Homo sapiens: one gene and its partners. The protein of the gene in region 5 purifies or fractionates together with the protein of the main gene of each other region. This does not show direct contact. Each region holds a gene or a part of one and is shown on either strand. Other genes may lie near its edges.

Region 1 (4,902 bases), on a different chromosome or scaffold from region 5:
GCCCGTCTCTACTAAAAATACAAAAATTAGCGGGGTGTGGTGGCAGGTGCCTCTAGTCCCAGCTATACTGGGGAGGCTGAGGCAGGTAATTGCTTGAACCCGGGAGGCGGAGGCAGAGGTGAGCCAGGATTGTGCCACTGCACTCCAGCCTGGGCAACAGAGTGAGACTCCATCTCAAAAAAGAAAAAGAAATATATTTTGAAAGAAAGCTATAGTGATGATGTAATAGCTAGGAAAATGTAAGGCAATATAAAATGATATCTTAGAGATATTGATAAGCTGGAGCAGCAAAACTACCCAAGTGCTAGGGCATTATTTAGAGTATAAAAATGAATTCATACCCCCATTTCTTTTCTTTTTTTTTTTTGAGATGGAGTCTCGCTCTGTTGCCCAGGCTGAAGTGCAGTGGCGCGATCTCGGCTCACTGCAAGCTCTGCCTTCCGGGTTCACGCCATTCTCCTGCCTCAGCCTCCCAAGTAGCTGGGACTACAGGCGCCTGCAACCACACGCGGCTAATTTTTTGTATTTTTAGTAGAGACAGGGTTTCACCGTGTTAGCCAGGACAGTCTCAATCTCCTGACCTCGGGATCCGCCCGCCTCAGCCTCCCAAAGTGCTGGGATTACAGGCGTGAGCCACCGCGCCCAGCCTCATATCCCCCATTTCAAACACGCTGTAAACAATGCTCAATTACTTTCCTCTTAAGTTGAAACCACCAATTACTGGGGAAAGGGGCAGTTAGATTTTATTGGTTGACTTTGTGTTTTTACTAATCCTTGTTGAAAAGTAGAGGAATTGGTTTAGTTGAGAAAACAAAATACTAAAAAATCTGCCACTAGACTTTTTAAGTCAAGAGTTTGTATAAAATGAAACATATCTACTATCTAATCTATAAAATTTAGAATCTTTTTAATTCTAAAGTTAACTTAAGTGTGATTTTTAGTGCTGTTGCTGAGGCCAGTGTTGCTTAAAGCAGGAACTTCTACAGTAATTGACAAAACTTGAGTTTTTCTGCTCTCATTTATCCATCCTTCAGACCCCTCAGATGTCATCTATTTCCTGAAATCTGACTTCTCCAGTTTTAGTAATTCTTACAATTTTTCAGGATTTAGATAGTACTGTACAGTTTACTGCTATGTATATGTCTTTAATACTTGTTGTTTTCAGATATTACACTAATGTCTCATCTGTAGTATAAATCAGACTTTCTGTCTTCTACCAGTTACATAATTTATATAATTGTTGCAGTACATGTTTGTTGATTTACTAGGCTGGATTCATGTTACAGAATTGGTAATCTTGGTTGGGCATGGTGGCACATGCCTGTAATCCCAGTACTTTGGGAGGACAAGGCAGACGAATCTCTTGAGTTTAGGAGTTGGAGACCTGCCTTAGCAATATGGTGAAACCCTGTCTTTACAAAAAAAAAAAATACAAAAAATTAACAGGGCATGGTGGCATCTGCCTAGAGTCCCAGCTACTTGGGAGGCTGAGGTGGGAGGGTGGTTTGAGCCCGGGATTTGGAGGCTGCAGTAAGCCACAATTGCACCAATTACAGCATGAGACCATGCCTTAAAAAACGGGGTGGGGGTGTTAATCTTGGCTAGATGTCTGTTTTGATTGTTAGGATGAATTGTGTTGGTAGTATTTTTCTAAAATGTTCTATCCAAATCAACTTGTTTATTAATCTCAAATAGGGAGAGACTCTGAAAACTTGTCTTAGAATTCTCTAGTGTCACCTAGGCAATCACTTTTTATGAGGGTCAAGTGCAAAATTAATCAAAAATTTTCCTTATCTGTACATAACAAGGTAATATAATAACACGGAACCACAACATCAATGTTTTAGCAAATTACACATACCTTTTTTTTTTTTTCCGGACGGAGTCTCACTCTGTCACCCAGGCTGGAGTGCAGTGGTGCCATCTCAGCTCACTGCAACCTCCGCTTCCCGGGTTTAAGCAATTCTCCTGCCTCAGCCTCCTGAGTAGCTGGGACTACAGGCATGCGCCACCACGTCCTGCTAATTTTTATAGTTTTAGTAGAGATGGGGTTTCACCATTTTGGCCAGGATGGTCTCAAACTCCTGACCTCAGGTGATCCACCCTCCTCGGCCTCCCAAAGTGCTGGGATTACAGGCGTGAGCCACCGTGCCTGGCCCCAATTTTTTTTTTTTTTTTTTTGGTACGGAGTTTTGCTCTTGTTTGGAGTGCAGTGGCATGATCTCGGCTCACTGCAGCCTCTGCCTCCCCCGGGTTCAAGCGATTCTCCTGCCTCAGCCTCCCAAGTAGCTGGGATTACAGGCATGCACCACCACGCCTGGCTAATTTTGTATTTTTAGTAGAGATGGGGTTTCTCCATGTTGGTCCGGCTGGTCTCGAACCCCCGACCTCAGGTGATCCGCCTGCTTTGGCCTCCCAAAGTGCTGGGATTACAGGTGTGAGTCACCGCACCCGGCCTTCAATTGTTTTTTAAATGGACCTTCCAACTCAGTAGTGCCAGAAACCATGTGTTCAATATTTGAAATTATAATATTTTGATATACGAATTGCATCTATCAGATTGCCTGTTAAACCCAAAAACTATTTTTTTTTTAACAGTTATTTGTTCCAGTTTTTGGTTTGAAAGTGTTTGGTTTAAAAAATGTTATTTTAGCCATTTTTATTAAACTTTATGCCAAAAAAATTAAGGTATGTCAGAAAGTGTTCATAATTATGGAAATTTTCTCTTTGGATAGGCTCGCATGTCTTGGGATAGAGAGTCGACAGAAATTCGGTACCGTAGACTTCAACATTTGCTTGAAAAAAGCAATATATACTCCAAATTTTTATTGACGAAAATGGAACAGCAACAATTAGAGGTATGTATATGTAACTGACTACAAGTGAAAGCTTAAAAAAATTTAAAAATAGCTTTATTGAAGTGTATATTATATACAGTAAAATGGACAGATTTTAAGTGTACGGTTTGCTGAGTTTTGACTAGTAAATATATAGATCTGTGTAACCACCAGCACAATCAAGATACAGTGCACTTCCATGAACTCCAAAAAATTGTCTTGTGCTGACAGTAATCCCCATGGCTGGTGTCCAGCAACTACTGATTTGCTTTCTGTCACTATAGACCAGTATTGTTTTTTCCTAGAAAATTGTATAAATGAAATCATGGTATTGTGCTAGTGAGTAAATAGTTGGTCTTCATCACCATTTCCTGGTATACAACTCTTGAAATCCTTGGAATCTTCAAAGTAATAGTGTTTTTTTTTTTGTTTTTTTTTTTTTAATGCTAATGATCAATGGCTAGCTGCCCTTAGGTAGCTTCAGGATGGGAGCCTAAGAAAGACAAAACCTGGATTAGAGGGTTGGGATTTAGCCTCACCCTCAACTTTGAGGAAAAGAGACTGAAAGTTAACTTGTTCACCAGTGGTCACGATTGAATCAATCACGTCTATGTTATGAGGTCTTCATTAAAAACCCAAAAGGGCTGGGTGTGGCTCACATCTGTAATCCCAGCACTTTGGGGAGCCTAGGTGGGTGGATTGCTTGAGCCCAGAAGTTTGAGACCAGGCTGGGTAATATGGCAAAACCCTATCTCTAATAGAAAAATTAGCTAGGTAAGGTGGCATGTGCCTCTAGTCCCAGCTACTTGGGAGGCTGAGGCAGGAGGTTGGCTTGAGCCAAGGAGATTGAGGCTGCAGTGAACTGTGATGGCACCACTGCATTCTAGCCTGGGTGACAGAGCAAGACCCTGTCTCAAAAATAAAACAGGCTGGGCGCAGTGGCTCACGCCTGTAATCCCAGCACTTTGGGAGGCCAAGGCAGACAGATCACTTGAGCCCAGGAGTTCGACACCAGCCTGAGTAACATAGTGAAAACCCGTCTCTACCAAAAATATAAAAATTAGCCGGTCATGGTGGTGTGTGCCTGTAAGCCCAGCTACTCAGAAGGCTGAGGCAGGAGGATCGCTTGAACCCAGGAGGCGGAGGTTGCAGTGAGCCGAGATTGCACCCCTGGACTCCAGCCTGGATGACAGAGTGAGACCCTGCCTCAAAAATAAATAAATAAAAAAAACCCCAAAAGGGGACAGGGTTTGGAGAACTTCTGGATAGCTGAACACATGGAGGTTCCTGGAGAGGATGGCGCATCCAGAAAAGGCATGGAAGCTCTGCGCTTCTTTCTCCATACCTTGTTCTATACATCTCTTTCTCTGGTGTTCCTCTGAATATGTTGTAATCTTTCTTTCTTTCTTTCTTTTTTTTGGAGACAGAGTCTTACTCTGTTGCCCAGGCTGGTGTGCAGTGCACCATCTCAGCTCACTGCAACCTCTGACTCCTGGGTTCAAGCAGCCCTCCCACCTCGGCCTCCCGAGTAGCTGGGACTACAGGAGCACACCATTATGTCTGTCTTATTTTTGTATTTTTTGTAGAGACAGTTTTGCCATGTTGCCGAGGCTTGTCTGGAACTCCTGGGCTCAAGTGATCTGCTTACCCTGGCCTCCCAAAGTGCTGGGATTACAGGGGTGAGCCACTGCGCCTGGACTGTCATATTCTTTATAATAAACCAATAAACTTTAATGTTTCTTTGAGTTCTGTAAGCTCCTCTAGCAAATTAGTCAAACCCAAAGAGGGGCTTGTGGGAACCCTGATTTATAGCTATTCAGTAAGAAGCACAGGTAAGGCGACTTGGGCCTTGCGATTGGCATCTGGAACTGGTAGTTAAAAGTCTTGGGGACTGAACCCTCAACCTATGGGGTATGGTGCTTTCACCCCGTAGATAGTGTCAGAATTGAATTACAATAGAGGACACCCAGCTGGTGTCACTGCAGAAATGCTTGTTTGGTGTATAGGGAAAACCCCCACACATTGGGTCACAGAAGTCTTTTGTGTTGATTGTTGAGTGTGTAGG
Region 2 (4,902 bases), on a different chromosome or scaffold from region 5:
GTGTCTGGGTCGTGATCCCGTGCTGTCACCGTGAGTCTGTGTCTGGGTCGTGATCCCGTGCTGTCACCGTGAGTCTGTCTGGGTCGTGATCCCGTGCTGTCACCGTGAGTCTGTGTCTGGGTCGTGATCCCGTGCTGTCACCGTGAGTCTGTGTCTGGGTCGTGATCCCGTGCTGTCACCGTGAGTCTGTGTCTGGGTCGTGATCCCGTGCTGTCACCGTGAGTCTGTGTCTGGGTCGTGATCCCGTGCTGTCACCGTGAGTCTGTGTCTGGGTCGTGATCCCGTGCTGTCACCGTGAGTCTGTGTCTGGGTCGTGATCCCGTGCTGTCACCGTGAGTCTGTCTGGGTCGTGATCCCGTGCTGTCACCGTGAGTCTGTGTCTGGGTCGTGATCCCGTGCTGTCACCGTGAGTCTGTGTCTGGGTCGTGATCCCGTGCTGTCACCGTGAGTCTGTGTCTGGGTCGTGATCCCGTGCTGTCACCGTGAGTCTGTGTCTGGGTCGTGATCCCGTGCTGTCACCGTGAGTCTGTGTCTGGGTCGTGATCCCGTGCTGTCACCGTGAGTCTGTGTCTGGGTCGTGATCCCGTGCTGTCACCGTGAGTCTGTCTGGGTCGTGATCCCGTGCTGTCACCGTGAGTCTGTGTCTGGGTCGTGATCCCGTGCTGTCACCGTGAGTCTGTGTCTGGGTCGTGATCCCGTGCTGTCACCGTGAGTCTGTGTCTGGGTCGTGATCCCGTGCTGTCACCGTGAGTCTGTCTGGGTCGTGATCCCGTGCTGTCACCGTGAGTCTGTCTGGGTCGTGATCCCGTGCTGTCACCGTGAGTCTGTGTCTGGGTCGTGATCCCGTGCTGTCACCGTGAGTCTGTGTCTGGGTCGTGATCCCGTGCTGTCACCGTGAGTCTGTCTGGGTCGTGATCCCGTGCTGTCACCGTGAGTCTGTGTCTGGGTCGTGATCCCGTGCTGTCACCGTGAGTCTGTGTCTGGGTCGTGATCCCGTGCTGTCACCGTGAGTCTGTCTGGGTCGTGATCCCGTGTTGTCACCGTGAGTCTGTGTCTGGGTCGTGATCCCGTGCTGTCACCGTGAGTCTGTGTCTGGGTCGTGATCCCGTGCTGTCACCGTGAGTCTGTGTCTGGGTCGTGATCCCGTGCTGTCACCGTGAGTCTGTCTGGGTCGTGATCCCGTGCTGTCACCGTGAGTCTGTGTCTGGGTCGTGATCCCGTGCTGTCACCGTGAGTCTGTGTCTGGGTCGTGATCCCGTGCTGTCACCGTGAGTCTGTCTGGGTCGTGATCCCGTGTTGTCACCGTGAGTCTGTGTCTGGGTCGTGATCCCGTGCTGTCACCGTGAGTCTGTGTCTGGGTCGTGATCCCGTGTTGTCACCATGAGATGGTGTCTGGGTTGTGATCCAGTGTTGTCACCGTGAGTCTGTGTCTGGGTCGTGATCCCGTGCTGTCACCGTGAGTCTGTGTCTGGGTCGTGATCCCGTGCTGTCACCGTGAGTCTGTGTCTGGGTCGTGATCCCGTGCTGTCACCGTGAGTCTGTGTCTGGGTCGTGATCCCGTGCTGTCACCGTGAGTCTGTGTCTGGGTTGTGATCCAGTGTTGTCACTGTGAGTCTTTGTCTGGGTTATGATCCAGTGCTGTCACTGTGAGTTTGCTGCTCAGCTCCTCCAGCTTTGACCACTGGTGGGTTTCCCCTCCTTCCCCGCAGGGATGCTTCCGGCCCAGCTTCTGTTTCTCTGCCCCAGCCCTAGAATGAGTTGTTTCCAAGGAGCCCTGGTTCTTTTTAGGGGAGCATAGAAACTTCAGTCTGGGCACTGGGAGGGCCGTTGCTCCCGGGGTGTCACAGCTGCTGGCCCTCTTCCTGGGTAGAGCTAGGCTCTGTGTGTCACTATCTCATTTCACACATTTGATTGCTTCTCTGTCGTATCCACCTATCCATCTGTAAGTATACGAAGGTCAACCTGGTCCATGCCGATGACTCTGACTCTCACCTGGCACACGGTGTATTCCAGCCTTCCGTCCTGGAACATGGTGTATTCCATCCTCCCGTCCTGGCACACGGTGTATTCCAGTCTTCCCTGCTGGCCCATCTGAATCCTCCCTCTCTGCTAGTGGGAACCTGGCTCCCCTGACTCCTCTAGCATCTGCTCAGCCCTGGTGCACGTGCGAGAATTGTCCACCCAGGCCCGGGGGGGAAAGCCCTGGAGTGCAGCGTTTGTGTACAGCTCCTTCTGGCCTTGCGGTCTCCACTCAGAACATTTTCCGGAGTTGCTTAGGCGGCTCCTGCCCTCTGGCCAGTGTGTTTCTGTTTCACATCCGTGCGTGTGGAGCCTGTATTCTATCTGCATCCCCCAACCTCCTGGTCGGGTCTTCCCCCAATAGTTTGTGCACATTGAAGTTCATCTCGTGTAATGCTCAGTGCTGTGGGCTTTGCCTCCATCACCCCAGCTCCAGCCCCAAGTCCCCCGTGCATGGGAGTGACCACTTCCCCTGCACCAGCCCCTGGCACGCCCGGGTCTGTCTCCCGTCCCTCTGGTTTTGCCTTTTCCAGTGTGACATACGAATGAAATCACGCAGTATATAGCCTGTTGGGTCTAGATTCTTTTGCTTAGCAAAATGCACTTAAGATTCATCCATGTTATTGCCTGAACCAACAGCTGCATTCTTATCTCTGATTATTTTTCTGTTGCACAAATGCACCTCCGGTTATTTATCCACTTCCACCGTGAAGGATGTCTTCCTTGTTTCTAGTTTTTAGTGGCTATGAACAGAGCTGCTATGAGCATCTGCATGAGGCTTCTGTGCGAGCACACTTTCAGGTTGAAGGCCTGAGAGGTGCAGTAGCTGATTTGTAAGGTAACCCTTCATTATCTGGGTCAGATGCCACCGTCTGCCATCCACAGTGGTAGGCCACAGCATCCCCGGCACAGCGAGGGCACTCCTGCTGTCCCGAACCTTCTGCAGCATTGGGCACTGTCCATGTTCGTGTTTTTTTTGTTTTGTTTTTTTGGTTTTTTTTTTGAGACAGTCTTACTCTGTCGCCGAGGCTGGAGTGCAGTGGCGCTGTGTCGGCTCACTCCAACCTCCGCCTCCTGGGTTCAAGCAATTCTCCTGCCTCAGCCTTGCGAGTAGCTGGGATTCCAGGTGTGCACCACTATGCCCAGCTAATTTTTGTATTTTTAGTAGAGACGGGGTTTCACCACATTGGCCAGGCTGGTCTTGAACTCCTGACCTCAGGTGATCTGCCCACCTCGGCCTCCCAAAGCGCTGGGATTACAGGCATGAGCCACCGCGCCCGGCCTGGGCACTGTCCGTTTTCAAGCACTTCGGCCATGTGACGTGTGTGTGGTGACAGCACGCTGTGGTTTTCATGGGCATTTCCGCAGTGATGAAGGATGTTGAGCATCTTTTCACGTGTTATTTGCCATCCGTACACCTTCCTATGTCTGTTCAGACCTTGTGGCCTGGTTTTTTCTTCCCACCTTTAACATTGGGTTGTTTGTTTTCTAATTATTGAATTTTAAAAGTTCTTTAAATATTCTAGATACAAATCCTTTATCAGATGTGTGATTTGCCAGTATTTTCTTCCAATCTGCGGCTTGTGTTTTCATTCTGTTAAAAGTAGCTTTTGCAGATCAAAAGTTTTTCAGTTTGATAAAGTTCAATTTACAGTTTCTAATTTCATAGATTATGCTTTTGGTGTTGTATCTAAAAACTTGTTGCCAAACCCAAGTCACATAGATTTTCTTCTATATTTCCATCTGGAAGTCTTATGCTTTTATGTTTTACATTTAGGTCTATGATCCTTTTTGGTTAATTTTTGTGTAAGGTGTGAAGTGTGTTCAGGTCCATCTTTTTGCATGTGGACATCCATCTGTTCCAACATGATTGTTACAGAGACTCTTCTTTGTTTTTTTATTTATTTTGTAGAGACTGAGTCTCACTATGTTGCCCAGGCTGCTCTGGAATTCCTGGGCTCAAGCGATCCTCCTGCCTCAGCCTCCCAAAGTGCTGGGATGACAGGTGTGAGCCACCACGCCCGGCCCAAGGCTGCTCTTTGTCTGTGTAGTTGCCTTTGAACCTTTGTCAGAATTTGTTCACTCTGTGTGTCGGGTCGGGGGCAGGGGGGCTGTGTCTGGGCCGTCTCTTCCATTCCATTGAGTTCTGCGGCTCTTCCTTAATCAATACTGCGCTGTCTTGATGTGGTCTTGATTAGCTTTTTAGTAAGTCTTGAAATTGGGTAACATGAGTCCTCCACCTCTGTTCTTTTCCAGATGATTTTGGCTTTTTAATCCCTTTGCTCTCCCATGTATATTCTAGAATCAGCTTGTCAGCCTCGGCGGAAGCACTGACTGGGTGTTTGGTTCAGATTGTGCCGAATTTATGGATCAAATTGACACCTTAATGATTTTGATTTTTCCAATCCATGAACATGGTCTATCTCTTCATATAGTTAGATCTTGTTTCATTTTTTTAATCAGTGTTTTGTAGTTTTCCATGTGCAGATTCCGTTTATATGTTTTTAGATTTATAAATGCATGGGGAAAAGTACATGTACTAGCTTCCTACATGTCTACACAGACACTCACTCCAAACCAGCATGCACAGTTACACAGACATGGACCCCAAGCCAGATTCCTACACGCAGTAGGAAGCCGCATGTACTTGTGGGGTTGCTCTTGTGATATTGTTATCATTATGCAATATCTTCTTTCATCCCTGTGTCATTCCTTGTTTGTAAATTGATTTTTTTCCTTTTGAGATGGAGTCTCTGTTGCCCAGGCTGGAGTGCAATGGTGCCATCTCGGCTCACTGCAGCCTCCCGGGTTCAAGTGATTCTCCTGCCTCAGCCTCCCAAGTAGGTGGGACTACCGGGGTGCACCACCACATCCGACTAATTT
Region 3 (4,902 bases), on a different chromosome or scaffold from region 5:
TCTATCCTAGTACCAGTTACTTAGTCATAGCTAGAGGTAGAAATCTATACCAATGGTTTTTAGGTAATGCATTTTACTCCTAATTTATATATAAAGTTTTAAAAAGTTTTTCTTCCTGAATTCACCATAAGAAATGTTTCTTATAAATTTAAACTTCAAAACCATTACGGAGGCCAAGACAACAGACTCTCACAAAAAAAATTTGTGCCTTCTCTGCTTCAACTTCCATATAAACAAATACATGATTTAAAGTATACTGAATCCCTTTTTTAAAAAGGTGCCGATAGGTTGCACCACTATTGATTTGCATACTTATCTCTCACCTTATAGAGTTTGAGAATTGTTTTAATACATTCATGTACAAACTTGGTCTGCTTCTGAAGACTTCCACCATACAAAGCCACCAGTTCTTCATTGAAGTTCACACTAAAGAAGTCAAAGTGGTACTTGAAGTCAATGTCCTCTGCTTTTCTAAGTGCAATGGAGCCAATAGAACGAACTGCAGAGGAAAAGAGTGAAGTGCACATTAAACAATATTTACAGGTTTCATCCATTCTTTCTTCAGAATTTCTTAGTAAATAACCTTATCCTGCATCACGAATATAAACCACCTATTTCAGGATGAAATTCATTAATAGCACCAATTTAGAACAAACTAATCTAGCAACTGTATGCCTTGAATGCAGTAAGTGTGTCATAAATATTTTTAAAATTAAATAAACAAAAAGCAAACAGATCACTCACTCTCTACCTTCTTTTCCTTTGGTAGGAGCAACAATAGCTAAAAGGGCAGGATTCTTTGAAGAATAAGACATATAAATTTTGCCACACTTATTGAGGTTTTTAAGAATGACAAGGTTCCTACAAGAAATATCCATTCATCACTTGGTTTAGATACTCACGCTTGATTTGTCTTTTTCTCCTACACAGGACATCCAATCCATCAGTAAGCGCTTTCATAATGTACCTTCCAAATCTATCCCCAGTTGAAATTTCTCACCATTCCCACCACTATTGTCCTAATCCAAACACTATTATCTCTTATCTGAACTACTCTAACAGGTTCTTTACTGGTCTCTCTGCTTCCACTCTTTTTGTTCTTGTTGTTGTTTTGCAAATCTTTTTAAAAAATATATTATAAATTGCTTATATTAGGTGGCACAAAAATTGTAGCATATGGTTTAGCAAACAAAATACCTGTTTGCCATTTCATTTTGTAAAAACATATACTATAGATACATTATAATCCACATATTATACAACTCACTATATAAAACTGTAAAATTCGATGGTTTTTAGTATATTCACCATCTCTGGTATATATTTTACAACCATCTCTGAAATCTAACATAAGATATTTTTTAATCGTTTCAAAAACAAAACTCTGTGCCTACTGGCAGTCACTCCCCATTTCTTCACTCCTCCCAAATCCTAGGCCTAGCAACCACTGATCTACTTTCTGTCTCTACGGGTTTGCCTATTTTGGATATCTCATATAATACGTGGCCTTTTGGAACTGGCTTCTTTCACATAGCATGTTTTCAAGGTTCACCCATGTTGTGACATGTATCAGTACTTCATTCCTCTTTTTTATTGAATAATATTCCATTATATGAATATGTCATATTTGATTCATCTATTTATCAGCTGATGGTCATTTAAATTATTTCCACCTTTTGGTTATTATATGCTGCTATGAACATTTATATACAAGTTTTTGTGTGGGTATATGTTTATTTTTCTTGGGTAGATACCTAGGAGTGGAATTTTTGGGCCACATGAGAGCTCTATGTTCAATATTCTGAGGAACTCCCAAACAGTTTTCCAAAGTGGCTGCACATTTTACATTTCCACCAACAATGTATGAGGGTTCCAATTTCTCCACATCTTCACCAACACTTGTTGTTATCCATCTTTCTTATTATAACTATCCTAGGAGGTATGAAGTGCTATCTCATTTTTTATTTATAGTTCTCTGATGACTTATGATGTTTTAGCATCTTTCCTGCTTCCATTCTTGCCCTTCAAAGGAAATTCTCTTCATAGTGAAGCCAGAGCAACTTTTTTTAAAAGTAAATCACACCTACCAGGTTGCTTAAAAATTTAATGTCTGACAATTCTGGTGTTGTAAAAGGATGTGGAGCAAAGGAAGGTAAAATATACTGCTTTTAGGAATATAAATTAGCACAATCAGTAAAGATTAAAAAGATACACATAACCTGTAACATGGAATTACACTCTTGGGTATCTAGCTTACAGAAGCACAGGTTTATGTGCTCCAGGAAACATATGGAATAATATTCATTATTTGTAATTGCCAATAAATGTAAACATTTATTCTGTCCAAAGACAGAATGGACAAACCATGGTATAGTCATACTACAGAATAATACAGAGTAAGGAAAATGAATGAATCACAGCTCACACAACAACTTGGATGAATGTTAAAGATAATGCTGAGTGAAAGAAGCCAGACACAAAATAATACATACTGAATGACTATATTCATATTACAAAATTTAAAAACAGCCTCATATACATAGATTGCATTAAAACTACAAAGAAAGTTAAGGAAATTACTCTCTTAACATTAGGACTGTGATTCTGTCAAGAAAGAAGGGAACAAAGTTTTAATCATGAAGGGGCACAGAAGGGGTTTCCAGGTTACTGGTAATCTACTTCTTGACTAGGGTTTTGGTTTCACGGGTGTTCACTTTATAATAATTTGTAACCAAATATCTATGTTCTATGTGTTTCTCTGTATGTAATATTTCAAATACAAAGATTACTTTTAAAAATCAGGTTATATTTTTCTTACCCAAAGCTCTCCAACAGTTTCTCATTCAAAGTCTTTTCCACAGCTTATATGATATGGCCCGTGGTTACTTTTCCATTCTTATCTCTTTTTACTTTCTCTAGTCACGATAGCCTCCAATGCACAAAACACGTTCCTGCCTCAGGACCTTCCCTCAGTCAAGCATCTCCTCAAATGTCATCTCCTCACAATGGCCTTTCCTGACCACCTCATCTAAACTAGCCACTTCCTGACCCTTTTATCTTCTACCTCCTGAGTCTGTTTTTGTTTCTAGCTTTTAACATTACTGACATATTTGTTTGATTGCTGTCTTCCTGATAAGCATATAAATTTGATGAGAGAGGGACTTTGTCTTGATATGCTCTGGATCCCTAATACCTGGAATACAGCCTGGCTCATGGTAGATACCTGTAGACACGTGCTAGATGAATAAACACGTAAATAATTGCACATGTTGAAACAATTCTAGTCTCATTACATAACAATTCTAGTCCATCAAATAACAAGAAAGCAGGTTTTAGTTTAAAACGAAATTAATTCCAGGTTATTTGGCTGTTACGCCAGAAATAACTGCTGTATCTCCAAGCCAGCATCAATTTGGAATCTGTACACGTAACTTCCCTATCTCACCTTTCTATGTTCCCCCCAGTACTTCCAAATCTCTCTAACTTAAATAACTCCAAAAGAAGAAAACGAATCTCTCTTGTTCTGCATAACATTAGTCACTGATTTACTTCCCTAATCAATGCTTAAGGTTCTGTTCTCTTTACCCTCCATTTCCAACATAAATGTGTTTCCTCTGCTGATTCCCCAAGGGGTTCCCCTTTATCATCTACTTATCCCATCCTACTCTATCTTATTCTTTGTACCCCTCTCTTTGCAAAGTGGTCTTCAACTTTTCTAAGTATTTCTCACATTATTCTCTCTCAGAGAAAATATTATATTTTGGTCTCTCTGTAAGCCCAGCACAGCACTTCACACACAGCATGCATTTCATTTACTTTATTTGATTCACCGAGTATGGATATGATTCAAATTCTTGAGTTGAATTTTATAGCTTTCAAAATTTACTTCCAGTAAGACTTACCTTGCTTATAACTTCCAGCATTACCAGGAAGAAAGAGAACTGGAATACCCGTCAAAGGGAGAATTTTGTGTTCTTCAGCATAGGATCCCTCTCCATAAAGATACAACTCATATGCGGGATAGCGTTTTGCCAGTTTCTTTGGAAGTTCTATTTTCTACATTTAAAAAAAAGTAGTTTCACTTTAATCAGTTTTATTAATACAATTCAGCCTCACCATATGCAATTCTGAATTACGCAAATTTGAAATAGTGCAATATAAAAATATTACTGATATTAAAACCACACTTCATACACAAAACAAGTTCTACTTGTAGTTTATTCATATAGAGAATCAGTCTTGAATTGTGTATATTTTGAACCATGTAGTCTTTAGGAAAACATAAAAGAGGACTACGTGAACTTCTAACCAATACAAATTACTCAAAATAGCCACTGACAATGGCAGAAAGCACTGGTATATGTCGACAAGTTACATGTTAACATAATTGGATAAGTATCAATTATACTTAGAAATGATAAAGGCTTTCCATCATCAAATCAATTCTTTTTTTCCATTTTTAACTATTTTGTAATGTCTCTCCTTTTACTCAGACCCAACTATCTATTTCAGTTGTTATATCTTCAAAAGAAAGTAAGTTGTTTTATAATGCAGCTTTCTGACTTCTCAACTTAATATGCTTTGGCCTACAATATGTGTAACAAATTAATCTTAACCTTATAGCCATGTCTTGGTCAAGACATGTACACTCTTCTTACCATAAACATTCCAGTGAATTAGTATCTATTTCAGTTTTCATGGGCCAGGTGCATGATTTGCTGGCAAACTTTAAACTACCCTGCACTTCATATTATTGTATACCAATAATACAGCAGCTCACCTAACTACTGAGTCAGTAGTTCACCTACATTTTTTTCAGCTTAGTATAAATTATCTCTTAATGTCATCCTCAAAGGTAGACATCTGTGGTAGTAAAGTATACATACACCCTTTTGCTCCTTT
Region 4 (4,902 bases), on a different chromosome or scaffold from region 5:
TAGGGCCCATGAGCACCAGATGAGTCATCGCCAGGCAAGAAAAGGCTGGCAGGCATGCCAAGCCCTGCCCTAGAGGCCATGAGAAGGCAGAGGCGGGTAGGGGAAGGAACCCCACGTTGTCAGAGTGGGAAGAGGATGGGCAATCCACTGGGGAAGTGGCCTGCCCAAGCATAAGGACATCAGGAAGTGGTCGCTGGGAAACACCTCCAAGGAGAGGCTAGGGGCAGGGCAGGGCAGGAGAGGCTAGGGGCAGGGAAGGGCAGGAGAGGCTAGGGGCAGGGCAGGGCAGGAGAGGCTAGGGGCAGGGCAGGGCAGGGCAGGGCAGGAGAGGCTAGGGGCAGGGCAGGGCAGGAGAGGCTAGGGGCGGGGCGGGGCAGGGCAGGGCCGGGCCGGGAAGGGTCTCTGGAGTTTGACAGATTTGAGTTCCTAAGTTTCATTTCCATTGTACCACTTAGCTGTGTCTTTGGCTGAGTTATTTTAAATCTCTAGGCCAACTGCTGTATATGTGGATGGGAATAAAAATGCCTAACATCCTAGACTGGTTGTGAGGAAGACATGAGACCATGTACTTGAGCACGTAGAACAAGACAGGCACTCATTGGAAACCATTATTACTAAGACACTTTGACAGATTTACCAGAAAATTAGCAAATAGGTTTATGTTAAATCAGACACCATTTTATGCTAAATTCTAATATAGTCAAGCGAATCAGTTACCAAGCTGTAAAAGGAAGACATAAGAAATAAAGCTCAGGCCAGGCGTGAGCTTGTAATCCCAGCACTTTGGGAGGCTGAGGCGGGCAGATCATGAGTAGAAACCCTGTCTCTACTGAAAATACAAAAAAATTAGCTGGGTGTGGTGGTGGGTGCCTGTAGTCTCAGCTACTCAGGAGGCTGAGGCAGGAGAATGGCGTGAACCCAGGAGGTGGAGCTTGCAGTGAGCCGAGATCGCACCACTGCACTCCAGCCTGGGCAACACAGTGAGATTCCATCTGAAAAAAAAGAAATAAAGCTTAAACTTGAAGGATTTCTATTCCCTTTTATTCCTCCCAAATTGGGAAGAGTATGTAATTATCAACATTAATAGTGAGATCCAACAATGCAGATAAACCCCATCTTTCTACAGAAAGAAAACACTTTCTACACGTTAATGTCATGTCCAAAATTGACAGAGACAGGCCTAGAAGTCAGGCCACCAGTTTCCAGGTCCTTCTCCCATACCCTTCCCTCATCCACTTGCTTTTTTGAGATGGAATCTTGCCCTGTCCCCTAGGCTGGAGTTCAGTGGCACAATCTCAGCTCACTGCAGCCTCTGCCTCCTGGGTTCAAGCAAATCTCCTGCCTCAGCCTCCCAAGTAGCTGGGACTATGGGTGCGCACCACTACACCCGGCTAATTTTTTAAGCTTTTCTTTAGTAGAGATGGGATTTTGCCATGTTGGCCAGTCTGGTCTGGTCTGGAACTCCTGGCCTCAAGTGATCCGCCCGCCTTGGCCTCCCAAAGTGCTGGCGTTACAGGTGTGAGCCACCGCGCCCAGCCCCCTCATCCACTTTGCTCCATCCCTGCTACACATCCTCCTGGCCTCTGCTGACACTGCCCTCCAGGGCAGGGGAACCACCATGGCTCAAGGCTGCCTAGACTCTGACACAAACAACTGCCTACCTGGCTCTTGGGCCTATAGAGACCCCATTCCTCCTTTCCACACCTTCCCCTAGGGCTCCATGCTGCTTGTGGAGCCTCACAGCCAGGACCTATAATAATAGCCTGTTTGCAGAGGAGTCAGATACCTTTCCTAGGCCAGCCCTGACACCAAGATCCCCACAGAAAAAAGCATCGTCTCCCCGCAACCTCCTTGCCACTTCCCCTAATTACGCCTGGTTCTATTCCTTATTTTCTCCTCTTATTTTTTTTTCTATCATCCATCCATGGTGGCCTGGAACACTGCAAGAGAGTAAATTCAAAAACAGAATAAAACTACGCTTTTGTTCAAGCACAGAAAACAAAACTTAAAGTCAGCAAACCTGGGTTCAGGCCCCAGCAGTGCCACCCATGAGCTGTGCTCCTTGAACTTAAAGTCAGCAAACCTGAGTTCAGGCCTAGCAGAGCCACCGATGAGCTGTGCTCCTTGTGCAGCTGCTCATCCCTTTTCAGTTCTAAGTTCCTTGTCTGCAAAATGATCAAACTGTCTCATGATGTCACTGTGATGAGTGAGTAGATTCAAGTATGAGGTACTAGCAGAGAATGATGTGTGATAAACAACAACTGCCTTCCCTTCCCTTCTTCATGTTCCCTGGCTTGCTAGAAGGAAGGCTAGGAGACCCAAAACAGGGAAAGTCAACCCCCACTCCAGCTTCTGGTTGGAGTCTCACACTCACAGACACAGACACCTACAGACCACAAGTAAACACCAAGAACTCACCTGCTTTCCTGATCCCACCACGAAAACTCCCCCAAGGATGAAGCCTTCTCCTTCCAGGTTTCCAGAGAAGCCTCCGTTCCAGGCTCGGAAGAAGTTGTACCACACTCCCAGACGGATAAATCCCATAAACATCATCTTCCGCCTTTGTGGACCATAGAACTTTTTCTATGGAGTGAGAAAGACAGATCCCATATGAGTACTCTACATGCCTGCCTTCCTCAAGGAGGAAACGCTCCTGACGGGGCATTGGTTCTCAGGCAAAGACTCAAAAGGCTGCTGGTTCCAGTCTTCTCTCCCACCCAACACACACACACTGCCCACATTCAGGTCCACTCTTTTTTTTTTTTTTTTTTTGAGATGGAGTCTTGCTCTGTCAGTCAGGCTAGAGTACAACGGCGCGATCTCAGCTGACTACAATCTCCACCTCCTAGGTTCAAGCAATTCTCTGGCCTCAGCCTCCCAAGTAGCTAGGATTACAAGTGCCTGCCACCATGCCTGGCTAATTTTTGAATTTTTAGTAGAGACAGGTTTCACCACGTTGGCCAAGCTGGTCTTGAACTCCTGACCACAAATGATCTGCCCACCTCGGCCTCCCAAAGTGCTGAGATTACAGGCATGAGCCACCATGCCCAGCCAATCCAGGTCCACTCTCAACTGCCAAGAAAACAGAACCCTGCTGGGTCCAGTTTCAGACCTCAAGGTAGGCCTGACCTAGGGTGACATCCGTAGCTTTCAATTCTGACTCTACCTTCTCACTAGTCTTCCACCTGACAGGATGGTAACAGTGCTACCTTCTGCAGAGGTGGGAGCAGAAGAGAAAGAAATAAATGAATTAAGGGACAGGGTGTGGGGCTTTGTACTAGGCCCCCAACAGTGGAGGAACCTGTTGGAGTTTCAGCTATTTCCTACTCTCCCAGTTCACATGGCAGGAAAGACTTAAGTAATACAGATGCTCCTCAACTTACAATGGGATTATGTCCCTACAAACCCATCATAAGTTGAAATATCTTATATTGAAATGCATTTAATACACCTAACCTCATAGCTTAGCCTACACTACCTTAAACATGCTCAGAACACTCTTATTAACCTACAGTTGAATAAAATCATGTAACACAATCCTATTTTAAAATAAAGTGTTGAATAACTTATGTAGTCTATTGAATATTGAATGTGAAAAACAGAATGGCTGTATGGGTTCTTGAAGAAATGTAGAAACTAAATGCTTATCACTTCTGCACCATCACAAAGCTGAAAGATCGTTAAGTCAAACCACCAGATGGTCAGGGACTGTCTGTAACTGAGAGGACAGCTTTAAAATGTCTGATCATGCTCTGCTCAGGGGGCTGAAAAAGGCCTTGCAAGTTCAGGACAGCTGAAGGGAAGGCCAGCCTCCAGCTCCAGGCCAGACATACCTGGGCCACCTGACTATCACACAGCTGAGCACAATCCCCAGCAGTCTGTGTCTAAAAGCCTCCCATCACACACACCTTTTCATCCAGGAAGATTTCTCCTTTGAAATAAGGCTGGAAATCCTTCACTTCAGTCCTGATGTGCTCCTTTACCACTGCATAGAGGGGGACGCCCAGCTGGTCCAACATGCTTTTCAGGGAGGACAGATCCGCAGCTTCCTGTAGAAGACACAAGGGTTCAGGGACATCTGTCCCAGCTGGCTGTGGGCCTCCACATAGGGTGTCAGGTTCCCTCTGCAGCCCAGGCTCCTTGTCTTCTCCAGTGGAAAGCAGAGGCAAGGCTCCTGTTATGGCTGTCCTAACCACAGCTTGGGAGCAGCCATACCCAAACACATCCTCTCCTCCTGCCCACAATGCTTCTCTCCTACATCATCTCCCAGCCCCTTCCCTGCACTAGACCAAACTAACACAAGGGCCCAGCAGACACACGCTCCTCTAGCCATAACCTTCCTTCTCTCTTCAGCTCAACCCTACCCTCTGGAAAGGTATCCCCGTTCTAAAAAGATCTCCCTGGCTAGTCCACCCTGAAGTAAAGCCCTGCTTCTCTGTGCATATCCTATCTTCCCTGTTTGGTGACATTTTCTGTACTGAGTCTGCATGTTACCACTAAGTTGAGTGTTGTCTCTTACATTCCCAAATGTTTCTAATAGTTAGAAACTATGTCTTCCATTTCTTGGAACCCTCAGTGCCTAGAACATGGCTGGGTATAAAACAGGTGCTAAATACCAGGTGGAAAGATTTGAAGGGGGACAATGGGGAGAATGCAGCTGAGCTGAGATGCAGATACCCTTGACTCTCAGGAACTGTGTGCTAGATGAATGAGGGAAACTGCATGAGTCATGGTAAAGCTTCAACATTAAGAACTCAATCCTTTTTTCACATTTGGTGTCAGAATTAAAGAATGAGCAAAAATCCTTTTAAATGCAGTCTACTCATCTCCAATACAAATATGCTGTTGTATGGTTGCAACTACATTTAATTTTTCATTTATTTTCTAGAGTAAGAAAAAAAA
Region 5 (4,902 bases):
CTCCCATTCCTTAGTTAACCTCTGGCAAACATGTATCTGTTATTTATTTCTATGATTTTGTCATGTCAAGAATATTATGTAGTAGAATTATGCAACATACGAGACACAAATGTGAGCAAGGAAAAACAAAAAGTTTTGTGCTAGACCCTTAAAATTAGGCATAGAAGGAGGAAAGTCTCTTTAAAATAGTAGTAGCAGGGACAAGATCAGCATTTAATGCTCAATTTCATGTGAGGCCCAGTTGTCTCATTATTTAATAACCTGTTAAACACACACACACATACACACACTAGAATTGCCATAGACTAAATGCTTGCATCTCCCCAAAATTCATGTTGTAACCTAATCTCCAATGTTGCTATAGATAGAATATTTGTGGTTCTCCCAAATTTGTATGTTACAACTTAACTTTCAATGTGATGGTATTAAGAGATGGGACTTCTAGGGAGGTGATTAGATCATGGGAATGGAGCCCTCATTAATAAAGTTAGTGCCTTTACAAAAAGGACCCCAGAGAGCTCCTTTGCCCATTCCACCATGTAAGTACACATGAAAAGATACCCATCCATGAACAAGGAAGCAGTCCCTCATCAGACACCAAATCTGTTGATGCCTTGATCTTGGACTTTGCAGCTTCCAGAATTGTCAGCAGTAAATTTATATTGCTTGTAAGCCATTCCGTCAGTGGTATTCTTTTAGAACAGCTTGAATGGACTAAAACCAGGGTTTTATACACATATGCACACACATTTCAAATATATATATTTTGAAGATTTATATATATTAAGGGATATATATTTTTTCAGAAGACCCTAAGATATCTTGTTCTCCATGATATATCTGACCAACTATCACCAATTACTACATAATCCTCCTCTTCTCTGTCACTTTTTGACCAACTGGATTCTTTTACTCATTTATAGAAGATCATGAAGAACTTGGCTCCTAGTCTTAATCACTAAAAGTCTTGACATCCTCCAGGTAGACTTCAATATCCATGGAGGCAGTTCCTCCAATACCTAAATTTCTGTGTTCCTGAAGCTTCTTGGCTTTAGAGAACTGTAAGAGTAATCACTTAGCCATTCAACTTCCTGTCACACTGCCAAACATGTGTAACCACACCTTCTCTTTCCTATTTCCTCCTTTCTTCTATTAGCCTTTTTCCATATGAATTAAAATGCATTCAAGTATCTCCCATATTACAAAAAGGAAAATTTTTGGAGCCTCTGATTCCCCCTTTAATTGCTGTTCTAACCTTCACCTATTCCCCACCCCTACCAATTAAGTTTCTCAAGGGTCCTCTTCCTTCCCATGTGCACTTTCTCCACTACCACTAACTCCTCAGCCAAGTGCTTATTTTGTTCCTCAGGATTATATCACTAGCAACTTTTTCTTCTTGCTTTATACTTCATCCAAGGAAATGTCACAGACTACAATGACTTCAGCTGCCATTTGTATTCCGATGTTTCCTAAATCTATTTTTTTTTCTTTTCTTTTTTTTGAGATGGAGTCTCACTCTGTTGCCCATGCTGGAGTGCAGTGGTGTGATCTCGGCTCACTGCAAGCTCTGCCTCCCAGGTTCATGCCATTCTCCTGCCTCAGACTCCCGAGTAGCTGGGACTACAGGCGCCCACCACCACGCCCAGCTAATTTTTTGTATTTTTAGTAGTGATGGGGTTTCACCGTGTTAGCCAGGATGGTCTCGATCTCCTGACCTTGTGATCTGCCCGCCTCGGCCTCCCAAAGTGCTTGGATTATAGGCATAAGCCACCGGGCCTGGCCTCCTAAATCTATTTTTCTAAGCCAGATCTTTCCCAGCTTCAGATCTATATATTCAACATCTCCACTTGGTTGACCTAAAAGGACCTCAAACCTAGACTATTCATACCTAAACCCATCTTTTGTCTTCTAACTATTTCTCCTATTCTGGTCAATACTTCAGTGAATGAGATCAACAGCCATGCAGTTGTACAAACCTGGAATGTAACATGTAACTCCTGGTTAAACCTACCTCTTTACCTCCCACAGTCAATCACTATTACTGTCAATTATAGGCCAAATTCATTGACTTTTCTCCATCTTTATTGTTAGTAGCTTATTTCAGGCCACCATTACCTCTCACCCAGATCACTGAACAGTCTTTCTTTATTTTGTTATTTACCAGTTATTTATTAAGTATCTACTATGTACCAGAGACTGTTCTAGGCACTTGTGATACCAATAAACACTTATAAAAATCTTTGACTCTTGGGAGGCCAAGGAGGGCAGATCATGAGTTCAAGAGATCAAGACCATCCTGGCCAACATGGTGAAACCCCATGTCTACTAAAAATGCAAAAATTAGCTGGACCTGGTGGCACGCGCCTGTAATCCCAGCTACTCGGGAGGCTGAGGCAGGAGAATCACTTGAACCCAGGAGGCGGAGGTTGCAGTGAGCCGAGGTCGTGCCACTGCACTTCAGCCTGGTGACAGAGCAAGACTCCATCTCAAAAAAAAAAAAAACTTTGACTCTATAAAGGTTACTATATACTAGGTAAGGATAGACAATAATCAATGAACATAATAAATGAGTAAATCATATATTATTTTAGAAAGTGAAAAGTACTATTACAAAAAATAATTCAAACAAGAAAGAATTGTATGGTAAATTTAGTCCTAGAGTAAAATGACTGGCTGTTAAAGGAAAAGGGATGTTCAGAACAAACCAGAAAGTCCAAGCAAGTCATGAACAGCCTGTGTAAGTGACAATAAGAGGATTTATTTTAAAAAACTCAAAAACTTTTATAAGATCTAGTTCTCTATGATTAAAGGGAAATTATAATGGTCTTTCTATAGATCAGGTTTTATATTTAAAAAACCACTTATACGCTGAATAATAGAATTGGTTAGAACAATGAAATTTTCTTAAGGGGTTTATTTAATTTTAATAAATTATAAGATATTTTAATTTTTTTATTTTAACCCAAAGTTCAACTTTTATTGCATCTCACGGGTTTTGGTTTTCTCTCCCCTTTTAAAAAACATGAAATAGTAACAATACCCTTCAACTCATTTTCAGTTCCTATAAGTTTTTTTTTTTCCTCCTCAGGTTCTGTTTCTTGTGGCCTTATGCTAGCAATGTTTTCTTAAAGGTCTAAAGGAAATGTCTTCTTCCAACATAATATTCTGTGCACTACAAAAGGTCTTCTCTTTTGCCTTTTGGTAACTGGACTAACAGATTTTAAGTTTTATCAAAATAATTCCTATGCATTATTATTAAGTTTGGTTTGCTCAGGAAAAATTGAGAATAAAAAAATTTTAATTAACGTTATTACTTCCTTGCATCTTCCTGTATGTGCTTTTAAAGTCCTTGTGACATTGAGCTACAGGGCTTTGACTTCTGGGTCTAAAAAGAACACCAAGTCCTGCTAAACTTAAGCTCTGACAGCAATTAAAGCCTCATCTTCAGGCCTGGTAGAAGATGCCAATCAAAATTAACTGCATTCCTGAGACACAGGGCCAGAAATTAAAGCCATTCAACTCCTCAAGGCCCAGGGACTATCTTGGAAGAGGTGGGCATATGAGATTGTAAGGGCCAACTTTAAAAGATAAAGTAAGTTCACTTTCTTTATAAATTAATCATTAATGTCAAAAGCACACTGATGCGAGACCAGCATGTGGGCCCCTATGTCAGATTAACAAGGTTTTCTTGAAGCATTAACCTACTCCTTCATAAAGGTTATAAAGACTTACAGAAGTTATATCTTATGATCAGGATGAAAATGTTATAGATTGTTTATACAATTTTGGAAAATAAATTTAATAGGCTTCTTGTTGTTTTTATTAGGGCTTATTGTTTGGAAAATTAAGTCTCCTCTCTCATAGAATGAAGGTTTTGCCTTTTTAAGAAAATCCTTGAGTTATCACTTTGGTTAAATGAATGATTTATTTTACAATGACCTGTGATCCTATTTTGTAATATCAAGTGTTTTAAACCTTTGATATTTGACAAACTTTCCAAAATCAAATTATAAATTATGTCTTTTTCTGACCTTATTAATCCTTTAAGATATTACTAATAGGTTCCCTATAGTCCAAAAATGACGTGTGTAGCTTATTTGGTATAAAAATTATACAGGAAGCATTGTCAAATATAAAATGGTGTTTGGTTTCCTTTGGGCTATATTTGTATAAATATGTTATTGGCATGTATTCCAAAATTACGGGAAACTCCTATAATTCTGATATGACTTAATGCCTGTTATCAGTAATAATTATAATCGTTATGTTAAAAAAATCAAACAGAGTAAGGGGAATGCTAAGAGGTGGGAGTGGGGATGTGTCTGGTGTTAAATCAAGAAGATGAAAAAGACTTGAAGGAAGTAAGAACTACGTGGAAGTTACATGAAAACCTGGAGAAAGGGAAGAAAAAGAAAACAGCCAGTGCAAGGATGTCTTGGACCAGGCCTAGTGAGTTTCTGTGCCCTTTATTTAAATGAGTCCAATAAAACACTGTGCCAAGGCATTTGGGCCATACACATGCTACATGAGGAGCTGCTGAAGGTAGAGTACCATATTCACATTTTCATTTTAGAAATAAAATTTCAGATTCTTGAACACAAACATGATATCCTGTATTTCTGTATCTTTAATTCCTAGACCAGTGCCTGACACACAATATACATTTAACAAAGGTTTTTTGAATGAGTGCTTAGAGCAGGCTGAGACTGGAGGCAGGGAAATTAATTGGAAAACTATTTCAACAATTTAGATGAGCAATGACAAAGTATCGGTCTAAAGAAAGACAATGTGGATGGAGAAAAAAAGGATAGACTTGAGAGACATTTTGGAGGTAGGATTTATAAGACTTAGTGGCTGATCAGCTTGTGGAGGGAGTTTTAGCTTGATTGACTACACAGGCTA

Evidence for each region.
Region 1: the proteins of NXPE2 (region 5) and HELLS purify together in Homo sapiens (affinity purification with mass spectrometry; one large-scale study listed by BioGRID and IntAct). This does not show direct contact.
Region 2: the proteins of NXPE2 (region 5) and LMF1 purify together in Homo sapiens (affinity purification with mass spectrometry; one large-scale study listed by BioGRID and IntAct). This does not show direct contact.
Region 3: the proteins of NXPE2 (region 5) and PGAP1 purify together in Homo sapiens (affinity purification with mass spectrometry; one large-scale study listed by BioGRID and IntAct). This does not show direct contact.
Region 4: the proteins of NXPE2 (region 5) and PRXL2A purify together in Homo sapiens (affinity purification with mass spectrometry; one large-scale study listed by BioGRID and IntAct). This does not show direct contact.

Annotation. Positions count from the first base shown.
Region 1 is NC_000010.11:94,551,391-94,556,292, forward strand, and holds part of HELLS (lymphoid-specific helicase), read left to right. Parts: intron 1-2,735; coding exon 2,736-2,858; intron 2,859-4,902. UniProt on the Homo sapiens protein: Plays an essential role in normal development and survival. Involved in regulation of the expansion or survival of lymphoid cells. Required for de novo or maintenance DNA methylation. May control silencing of the imprinted CDKN1C gene through DNA methylation.
Region 2 is NC_000016.10:957,005-961,906, reverse strand, and holds part of LMF1 (lipase maturation factor 1), read left to right. Parts: intron 1-4,902. UniProt on the Homo sapiens protein: Involved in the maturation of specific proteins in the endoplasmic reticulum. Required for maturation and transport of active lipoprotein lipase (LPL) through the secretory pathway. Each LMF1 molecule chaperones 50 or more molecules of LPL.
Region 3 is NC_000002.12:196,916,095-196,920,996, forward strand, and holds part of PGAP1 (GPI inositol-deacylase), read right to left. Parts: intron 4,057-4,902; coding exon 3,903-4,056; intron 500-3,902; coding exon 324-499; intron 1-323.
Region 4 is NC_000010.11:80,425,013-80,429,914, reverse strand, and holds part of PRXL2A (peroxiredoxin-like 2A isoform 1 precursor), read right to left. Parts: intron 4,050-4,902; coding exon 3,909-4,049; intron 2,584-3,908; coding exon 2,419-2,583; intron 1-2,418. UniProt on the Homo sapiens protein: Involved in redox regulation of the cell. Acts as an antioxidant. Inhibits TNFSF11-induced NFKB1 and JUN activation and osteoclast differentiation. May affect bone resorption and help to maintain bone mass.
Region 5 is NC_000011.10:114,681,026-114,685,927, reverse strand, and holds part of NXPE2 (NXPE family member 2), read right to left. Parts: intron 1-4,902.